Linked DNA regions of Homo sapiens: region 1 is linked to region 2. The links come from fine-mapping of genetic effects on gene expression. A gene starts in region 2. The other region holds a variant in brackets. All regions are shown on one strand. Distances are between the middles of the regions. Region 1 overlaps NALCN (sodium leak channel, non-selective). Region 2 holds the start of NALCN (sodium leak channel, non-selective).

The links.
Region 1: its variant is fine-mapped to the expression of NALCN in fibroblasts (GTEx, PIP 0.96).

What each region holds. Positions count from the first base shown.
Region 1 is chr13:101,380,082-101,384,485 of GRCh38, forward strand. All of the region lies in intron 3 of NALCN (sodium leak channel, non-selective), which reads right to left. Among named protein-coding and RNA genes, the nearest start is that of NALCN, 34 kb to the right of the region's middle. The variant G/T (reference allele first, on the strand shown) is at 1,845.
Region 2 is chr13:101,414,010-101,418,413 of GRCh38, forward strand. It overlaps NALCN (sodium leak channel, non-selective), which reads right to left and starts at 2,499. Exons shown (of 44, transcript NM_052867.4): 1 at 2,304-2,499. RefSeq lists enhancers at 1,300-1,850, 1,851-2,401.

The DNA.
Region 1 (4,404 bases), 34 kb before region 2:
CACATATATACATTTTTTCTCATTGTCACATAGCACATATTCTAACATCAACACTTAATCAGACATAAAACATCTCTCAGAAAATGCAAAATAACTGAAATCAAAACAACCATTCTCTTGGACCACAGTGTAATAAAAATAGAATTCAAGACTAACAAAAAAAAGTGAAGAAGAAACTTGTCTTAATTTGCAAGGAAAACACATATTGACTTTAATTTTAATTGGGATTGCATATGTAAAAGAAAGATAAAGATGTACCACTTTCATTTTTTAATAGGGTATCTATTCTGACATTAGAATGCTTTAATAACATGGGAATTTAAAAAATGCCTTTGGAATAATAAAACAGAAAACTTCATGAGGTTAAAAATTAGAAACTTTAAACAGAAAAGCCTTTGCTTTTTTAGGACTATCCCATTAAATCATGAATTCTGTAATCATCCATGTAAGTCAATTCTGAATTCAGTCACATATATCATTACCTCCTCTGATTAAACCTGCTAGGGAAATGAAAATAGAAATAAAATGTCAAGATTTCAAATCAAATGATAAAACATGTTGCAGGATATTGACATAAGCCTCTACCTTTAGTAACAAATAAGTATCCAAATATCTCCTTGAGAGGTTTCTGGAAATAGTTTATGGTGTATGCAAAACTAACACTATGATAAAACACTTAATGGAAGTTATTTGACCCAAAAATGAAGTATAAACTCAACTTAATGAACACTGGGTAAGTGCCTGTTTTACATTAGAGGATATATAATGCCTAGCTAACACACACACACACACACACACACACACACACACACCACCATCACCACCACCAACAACCAAAAGAACAGTCTTGTAGAAAAACAGATGTGAACACATCCAGCTAGTATATAAAGCAAAATAACTTAAAGCTATAAACATGGTGGGAAAGATGGTAAGATTAATTCTATGGGGAGTTTAGAGAAACCAATGTTAATTCCCAAATGAACGGACAAATAATGTTTTCAGGGGCAAGGTAATCAACCAAACTTGGTGACTCCTGGGTTTGGGAAGACTCACAAAAGAGATATGAAAGCAAACTCTGAAGCTTGGCTCTGGGTGACAAGAAGGACAATGGCCTTATTAAATTGTGTGATTATCATCATATGAAGATTTATACCCAAGGAAGAGAAAAGCTGCATCTTAGGATGCTACCGATGCTACTGGTGTTTATGTGCTACACATAAACGCATCACAAAGGTTACATATATAACAAATAACGTAAGGATTTTTTATAGTCATCTTCAACTTTTTTTATAGTTGCATTTTTTAATAGTTGTGTTAAAGATCTCACAGAGGATCTTTAACTATAAGCATCATACTTGCCTCGTATATTGCACAGTTGAAAATGTAAATTAATTATAATCTAAATACAGATAACATAGCCCATATAAAATTGACTTTTTCTGAGCCTAAATTTGATTAATACCCAAGAAGGTAATAGAAGATGAATTATTTAAAGTTGTGCCCTTCATTCCTTCCTCCCTCTCTCCCTCCCTTACTTCCTTCTTTCCCTCAGCTCATAAGCATCCCTTTAACCTAGGCAGTGTTCAAGAACTAGGGATACGAGGGTGAACAAAACAAACGCTTCTGTCTTTAAGCAATTTACATTCTGAATGAAATAAAATATAAAATATTCATTATGTTATATGTTGACAAGTGTCATGAAGAAAAATAAAAGTGTATATTTTCAAATGGACTTTTATTAAATGAACAAATGTTTTTTACTTGTGTGTTAGGGAAAAAAAAAGAAAAGTATCACTTCATCTTTATTTTAAGAACTAGGCAGAGTTGTCACTTGTTTTTAAAAA[G/T]GCAAAGAATTCCAAAAACGAAAACTGAAATTTTATGGGACTCAGCAGAGAACTATGTTAAAATTGGAGCAATGAATGAGTACATATTAGGCAGGAAAAGAGTAATTATAGATCGTTGAGTACACGGGCACCCAAATAGGATGAATTTATATTGTACTTTTTCAAAACAGTATTACTATTTTATTTCATTTTTGTCATTAACAATGTTATATGTAGCAGCACTACAATTACCCTCTTTTTAATTGCTCATAATTTGCTTTAGAAATGAATTAAACTCGGTGGAACATTGAATGAGAGTTCACCATTACAATGAGGTACATTTACAATGTTAACAAATGAGGATAAACAGTGATACTTCCCTTTGTGTTATGGGGAGGGGGGCGGGCAAGTGAATGGCCAGGAGCCAAAGGTGGAGGAGAGACATGCTTTTCACAATGTATTCTGATATGTTTTTGGACCAATGCTTACATGTTAAATTTTTAAAAATAGCTTTTCAATTTTTTTTTTAAGTTGGACATTTTAGCTTTAACAAAATCACTTCTCCAGTTGGCAAAAATAAATTTAAATTTAAAAATTGGGGCCTCACCAATTCAGAATGAAAAGCTATCAATAACAGATGTGACTGAATTTTTGTTTCTGATTTCTTTGCTAAGGAAATTAATGTTGTAAAACTGGCCCACACTACATTTCAAACTATATAAAATAATGAATTATTTTAAATCATTTTAGAAGCACCAGTGGTGATCAGAAATTAGAAGCATACAAACATCTTAATTTCGAACGACCTCAGTTATAAAAACTGGCTTAGCAAAAATTCTACCATGTAATGTAGAAAACTTTCTTTTCCATAGGAAGTAATTTAATTGTTTTGTTTGGAATGTCTTCTGCCTTGGACTTTTCAGAAACATATAGTGGCATTCCTGTGTCACCAACAAGCTCAGCACATGCTAGATGGTATGCAGTGGTCAATCAGAATTGACCTCTTTTTATTTTCCCAGTGAAGTATGGAAATAATCCTCTGGGCATAAGTTTCATGTATTACTTTTTGGCTCATGTTTCCAAGAGTCATTCAATATTCATAAACATCTTTTATAAGCAGAGTTATGACCCAAGATACAAAGGCCAGCAACCCTCAGCATTTTTCCATTTGTAAAAAATCTTTGGCTTTTTAATGTTCATTGTTTTTCATGCTGTCCATCTTCCCGAAAAATTCTGCCAAGTCTGTGCCAACCTTTCCTTCCAGAGTGATCTGACTACAGCCTCCTCTGATCACCTTAACTCAGGCGTCATGCAACAACTGACAACTCAGCTCATGTATATAAATAATGTGCATCTTGTGTTACTCGCAGAATATGCCTTTGTAATCCATATTGGTTATTTCATGAATTTATATTTGGTCTCTCCAACTTATTGGATCTGATGGTGAAGTTTGAGTTTCCTACTTAAATCTTCTCTGAACGTATTCTCTGGAGTTACATTAGAAAAAAAAAAAGAAGTCTATCTCTCATGGTAAATGTTTGAGTGTATTCTGAAGATGAGTAACACCCTGAGACTTTAAGTCGGATAATTTAAGGTTGTGTTTGCAGCACCCAGTACAGTGGGTGACATATAGCAGATATTAAATGAATGATGAGATAGGTACATGAACCATGTCTTAGATACAGTGTATACAGCAAGATGTCAGTTAATATACAATGTATACAGCAAGATGTCAGTTAATATTTCTTAATGAATGCATCCATCCATCCATCTATTCACTGAAATTATTTGTATGCTTCTAAAAAGAAATTATTCCTTTCTGGCTCCTTTGTAACCATGAAAGATCACAGACGAGATTATGAGATGACTTATGGATACTTCCTGGATTAGCATAGTTTGCATAAGCAGAACTAAACATGCCATGCAAATACAGTTACGGTTTACATATTTTATACATTACCATGATTGTAAATACAATTGAACTGGTAGGAATTAAAATTACTATCATATTAATCATTATCAATAATTGCTAAGGCACAATAAGTTTATAATACTTTTAAATAAGTAGAATGCAGACCTTGAAATCTGACACTTTGCAATACAATCTTGGATTATGTTTTGTATCTGGCACATTTATCAAATTATCGTCAGAAGCCCTAGCCATAGTAGTCAAAGTTGCTTTGATTCCATTTATAAGCATGGCCAGATCCTTTAAAATTCTACTGTATTGAGGCTCAAGTTATAATATTTGCAACCCAATTCTAAAATATGCAACCAGAAGCTAACACATATGAATGCCCAGTGGTACTCAAGATATTTTAACACCTTAAATATGAAAAAATGTTTTAATTTGTTTGTTCCATCAACAAGAAATGGAGGGCAGAGAGTGCTTGAGCTATGCGCAAAAATCAGCACTTTGGTGGCTGAGGAGAGGAGTGCTTCAAGAGCTGTATATGTCAATTTTTATAACGGTAAACACTTGAAGACTGCCAATCAACGATAAGGTAAGAAAGTAACAACATATCATGCAAGTATTTAACAAGCAGAAAAAGGAAACACATTTATAGGGATATATTTTGCA
Region 2 (4,404 bases):
CAAGTAACTGGGGCTACAGGTGTACACCACTACACTTGGTGAATTTTTTTTTTTTTTGTAGAGACGGGGTTTCACCATGTTGCCCAGGCTGGTCTGGACTCTTGGGTTCAAGCAATAGGCCTGCCTTGGCCTCCCAAAGTGCTGGGATTATAGGCATGAGCCACCGTGTGTGGCCTTGGGGACCATTCTTAATATGTTTAAGCTCACTATCATAGTTTCCACAGCAAAACTAGAAAATAAGACATCTCACTGTATATCCACCTGCTTACATATTTGTCTTTCCTGAAGGATTCTTAGGCTCTCAGTTTATCTCTTTTTCTCACTCACCACCCAGCTTCTGGCCCAGTGCTTAGCTTATCTTAGGATATAGAGGTGTAGATGTGAATTTTCATTCACAAACTTGAAATCCACATGTGACTCTGACCTGGGATAAATTTATACAGCTATGGAAATTCTGAAATTATCTGAACATCATCGATAAATGATAAAACAAATGTGTACATTTGTGTATACACATACATGCACACACAAAGCATGCCGGAATGATAAAATCACCTGGAAACCATTTCAAAGAAATGCCATACCCAAGAAGAAGAAAATGCTACTCAAATCTTCAGTTCACTAAATTGCAACTAAATGACACTATTTTGAGTAGACTTTTTTTAAGTACATTTTTTAAGTACATTTCTCCTTTGAATATCTTGCAAGTCCTATCCAAAGTTATAAGTGTACAACCACTATTTTATAAGACATGCTTTCTCCTAGAGTTCTGTAGAGATTTTAGCATAGTCCTTATCAGTGACGGCACATTTATTCTGCAAACAGATTATGTCTTCTATGAACACAGAAGAGGATCCAACTGAACCTTTTCACTTTTTAAGTTTTTCTCCAAAGCTGGATTTTGTCTTCACACTGTCTGGTTTTAGCAGTGGCTAGGTCAAAGTATACTACAGAAGAACGAAAAATCGACTCTAGAAAAGCACGCAGAATGACAGCCAACCAGTTAGGGAGTAAATGTTTCTCGTTGCAGATGTTTGGGAAGCCATGATTTTTATTTAGAACTGTGGAAACCTTATCTTTGAATTTAAAAAGCCAGTCCTGAGATGCATCTGCCTCAGGGGTAACTACCATAGTGAAACCGCTCCTCTCCCAGGCCATATCAAATCACAGTTGTAGTTATGAACATACAAATCACACACATATATATATATATATACATACATATATATTTCAAAATCGCCACCTGTTAATTTTTGATCCCCTATTAGAGGTGTTATCCACCAACTACTAACACGAAGGTCACTGGTCCTCAACCCACATTTCACCACCAGGGCAGTCGGGCCTAGCTGATGACCACACGAACACCAGATTAAGAGTAAAACCTTCTGAGGCCTGAAAGTGAGCGTGTATTCACACATCCTTAATAATACAGTGTCTGAAAAATTGTACCTGAAACTGAAAGATTTATTCTAAGGTATTTCAAGCACTAAGGGTCTGAGTTCAGCATTCTCACACCATCCTGAAAGAGGAACATTAAGTCAGCAAAATGACTGCGATCTGGGCCCCCAGAGGGATCCCAGCCAGGCCATCCTTGCTGGTGTCTTAAAGATTCAGTGACAAAATGGTGTTGCTTGGCAGGACACTGTTTTGCGTTCGGTGTAGCCACCCTAATGACGGCTGCTTAACAAGGCCAATGAATATCATAAGGGACATTTAGCAAGGAGCAATCCACAGGAGCATGGGGGTGGGGCAAGGCCGCGGAGCCCCCGCGGAGACCTGCTGGAGCCAGGCTGCCCACCCCCACCTCCCCACCCGCGCGTTGGCCCAGAGGTTTACCCAGGCAGCGGCCCTGGTGCCGAGGGGGCAGGTGCAGCGCTGTAGTGATGCCCAGTGGCCTCGTCCTCAGCCACCTGCCCCCCAACACCTGCTAGATGCCCAGGCGGGGCAGGCCCGAGGTGTCGCCGGCCCTGGGCTTCCCAAGCCAGCCCAGGGGCATCCCGCGGCAGGCGCCCCCGACACCCACGCGCAGGAATAGGGAGGGCGCATCGCGGCTCCCGCGCCCCGGCCAGGCCGGCAAGGACCCCACCGCCCCGCTCTCGGGTGGAGGCGCCCCTCCCCACCCCTCCCCCGCGCGGGGCCCCCGCCCGCAGCCCCTCTAGCAGCCCCTCTCGCAGCCCCAGCGCCCCTGAGCCGTCCTGGCCCGGACCGGCCAAGGAACTAACGAGCGCGCATCGCGGGCCTCGGGCGCAGGGCACGGAGCCGGCCGCGCCGCAGCCTCCCGGGCACCGGCGGCGGTGACCAACCTGTAACCCCAGCGCTCAGAGCTGTCATGGTGCCCGCGGGCGGCGGCGGCGGCGACAGTGGGCGACCGGCAGGATCAGTGCCAGGCGCGGCGCCCAGGGCGGGCGGGGACGCGGGCCCCTCACCTACGGCGGCTCAGCTCAGGCAGCGCGCTCGGCCCGGCTGGGGCCGCGGCTCACGCTCGCCGTGTCACTCACTGAGCGCCGCCGCCGCCGGGCAGGCTGGGGGAGGGGTGGGAGCCGGAGTTTTCGGGCCTTTAAAAAATTATTATTTTATTTAAATTTTTAAAGTTAGCTTTGCTACAGGGACTGCAGTGATGCCGAAGGGCGGGCACCGCAGAGGAGGCTGCGCCGCAGTTGGTGGGGAGCGCCAGGGTCGGTACTGGCAGTTCCTTCTTGCCGGCTGCCACCCGCAGTCAGTCTCACAGCAACAGCTAGGCTCTCATCTGCGAGCTCCTCTCGGGGGTCTTTCGTACTCAACAGCACGGCGGCGGTGTGCACGGGAGTCCGCCGGGCACACGCGGGGTACACTTAAGTGCACTGCCAGGAGGCCGGGAGCCCAGCGTGCGAGCGTGAGGTCAGACTGTGCACGGTACCGAGGACTAGTTCCATTCCTGAGTATGAAAGGGTGAAACCGTTCACCTCAAGTTTCACCCCGGAGTTATTAAATAATGAATGCATCAGTCACACTTATAGTTTTCTAAATAGGTTGACGTTCGCCTTTAAAATTAAAATATGTTGTCGTGTGGATGAGACAAAGTCTATTCAGAAATTGACAGTCCCCCACCCCATACCCTGTGAGTATACCTGGACAGCAGACTGCATCTGAGGCTTCCTAGGGCTCCCAGCAGAGCAGGTTTAGGGAAATCTGGCCTCCTAAGCACCATGCCCAGGGCGACATCCTCCCACTCATTCCCACTCTCTGAAAGGTTTACTTTGGGTCTGGAATCTTGCCATGTAGTCAGATACGAAAATCCCCAGGGAACTCCTGACCAGTGATTTAGACATCATGCACACAGGCATATAAATAAAGGGAAAGAAACAACTGAATGAAGCTTTCTCTACAAGAGAAATTCTAAACAAAGAGCATTTGTCTATCACAAAATGTTATGTGGCAAGGTATAGAAGTAAAACTACACAAACCTACATTTTAAAAATGTATTTTCTGGTTACAGATATTTAATTAATCTACTTTCTTAAAAAGTCCATTCACAATTTGTTCACATTCATAATCCATATTAGTACGTTTTATTGTTTACAGGGAAATGTTAAAATATTGGTATTTCATGAAATACAGAGTCATGCGAGATAATTTTTCAAATTTCTAAAGACTTCAGAAAAACTGTGTCAAAAGCCAGGTTTTAAACAAATGATGAAATCACTCCTCATAAGAAAAAATTGACAGTAATTTAAACAATGCTAAATCTACAACCAGTTTGCTTAGAAAAAGTATTTACCAACTTGTTTCATCATCTTTATTTGCGGCTTTCAATTGCTTGTTCTAAATACTAGTTTATTTCACAAACTGAAATATATAGCTATATATATATGGTAGCTGAATGATAGTGTGTTATTCCTTGACATTCGTTCGAATTATCTGTTAGTAAATTATATTAAGGAAATATTTAAACATTTATTTATAATGTTTTGAAGTGGTCAAGGCAGTGATTTTTTACTAATCTCAGTGCCACTCCTCACCCAACAGGCATTTCAGACCTTTCTCTGTCCTTGGTTGAACTACCTCTGTTAAGTCTCTATAATTCATGCTCATGAGCCAAACAATCCCAATGATGATGGAGACAGTCTCAGAGAATTCATGGGCTTCAAGGAAGTCATGGAATCCAGCACACTCATCCTATAATGCATAGGGATTCACTGTGTATTGGAGTAGACAATCATTTTAAAAAACAGGTACATCCAAAATATCATAGTACCCCTTCTACCTGCTCAGTATCTCTCTTCTTTTGTTTTCTTTGTTATTTTTAGAGACAAGGCCTATCTCCGTTGCCTAGCCTGGAGTGCATTGATGTGATTATAGCTCACTGCATCCTCAAAGCAAAAGTAGAAAGGATGAACAAATATCTTTTCCAGGTTGAATTGGCCC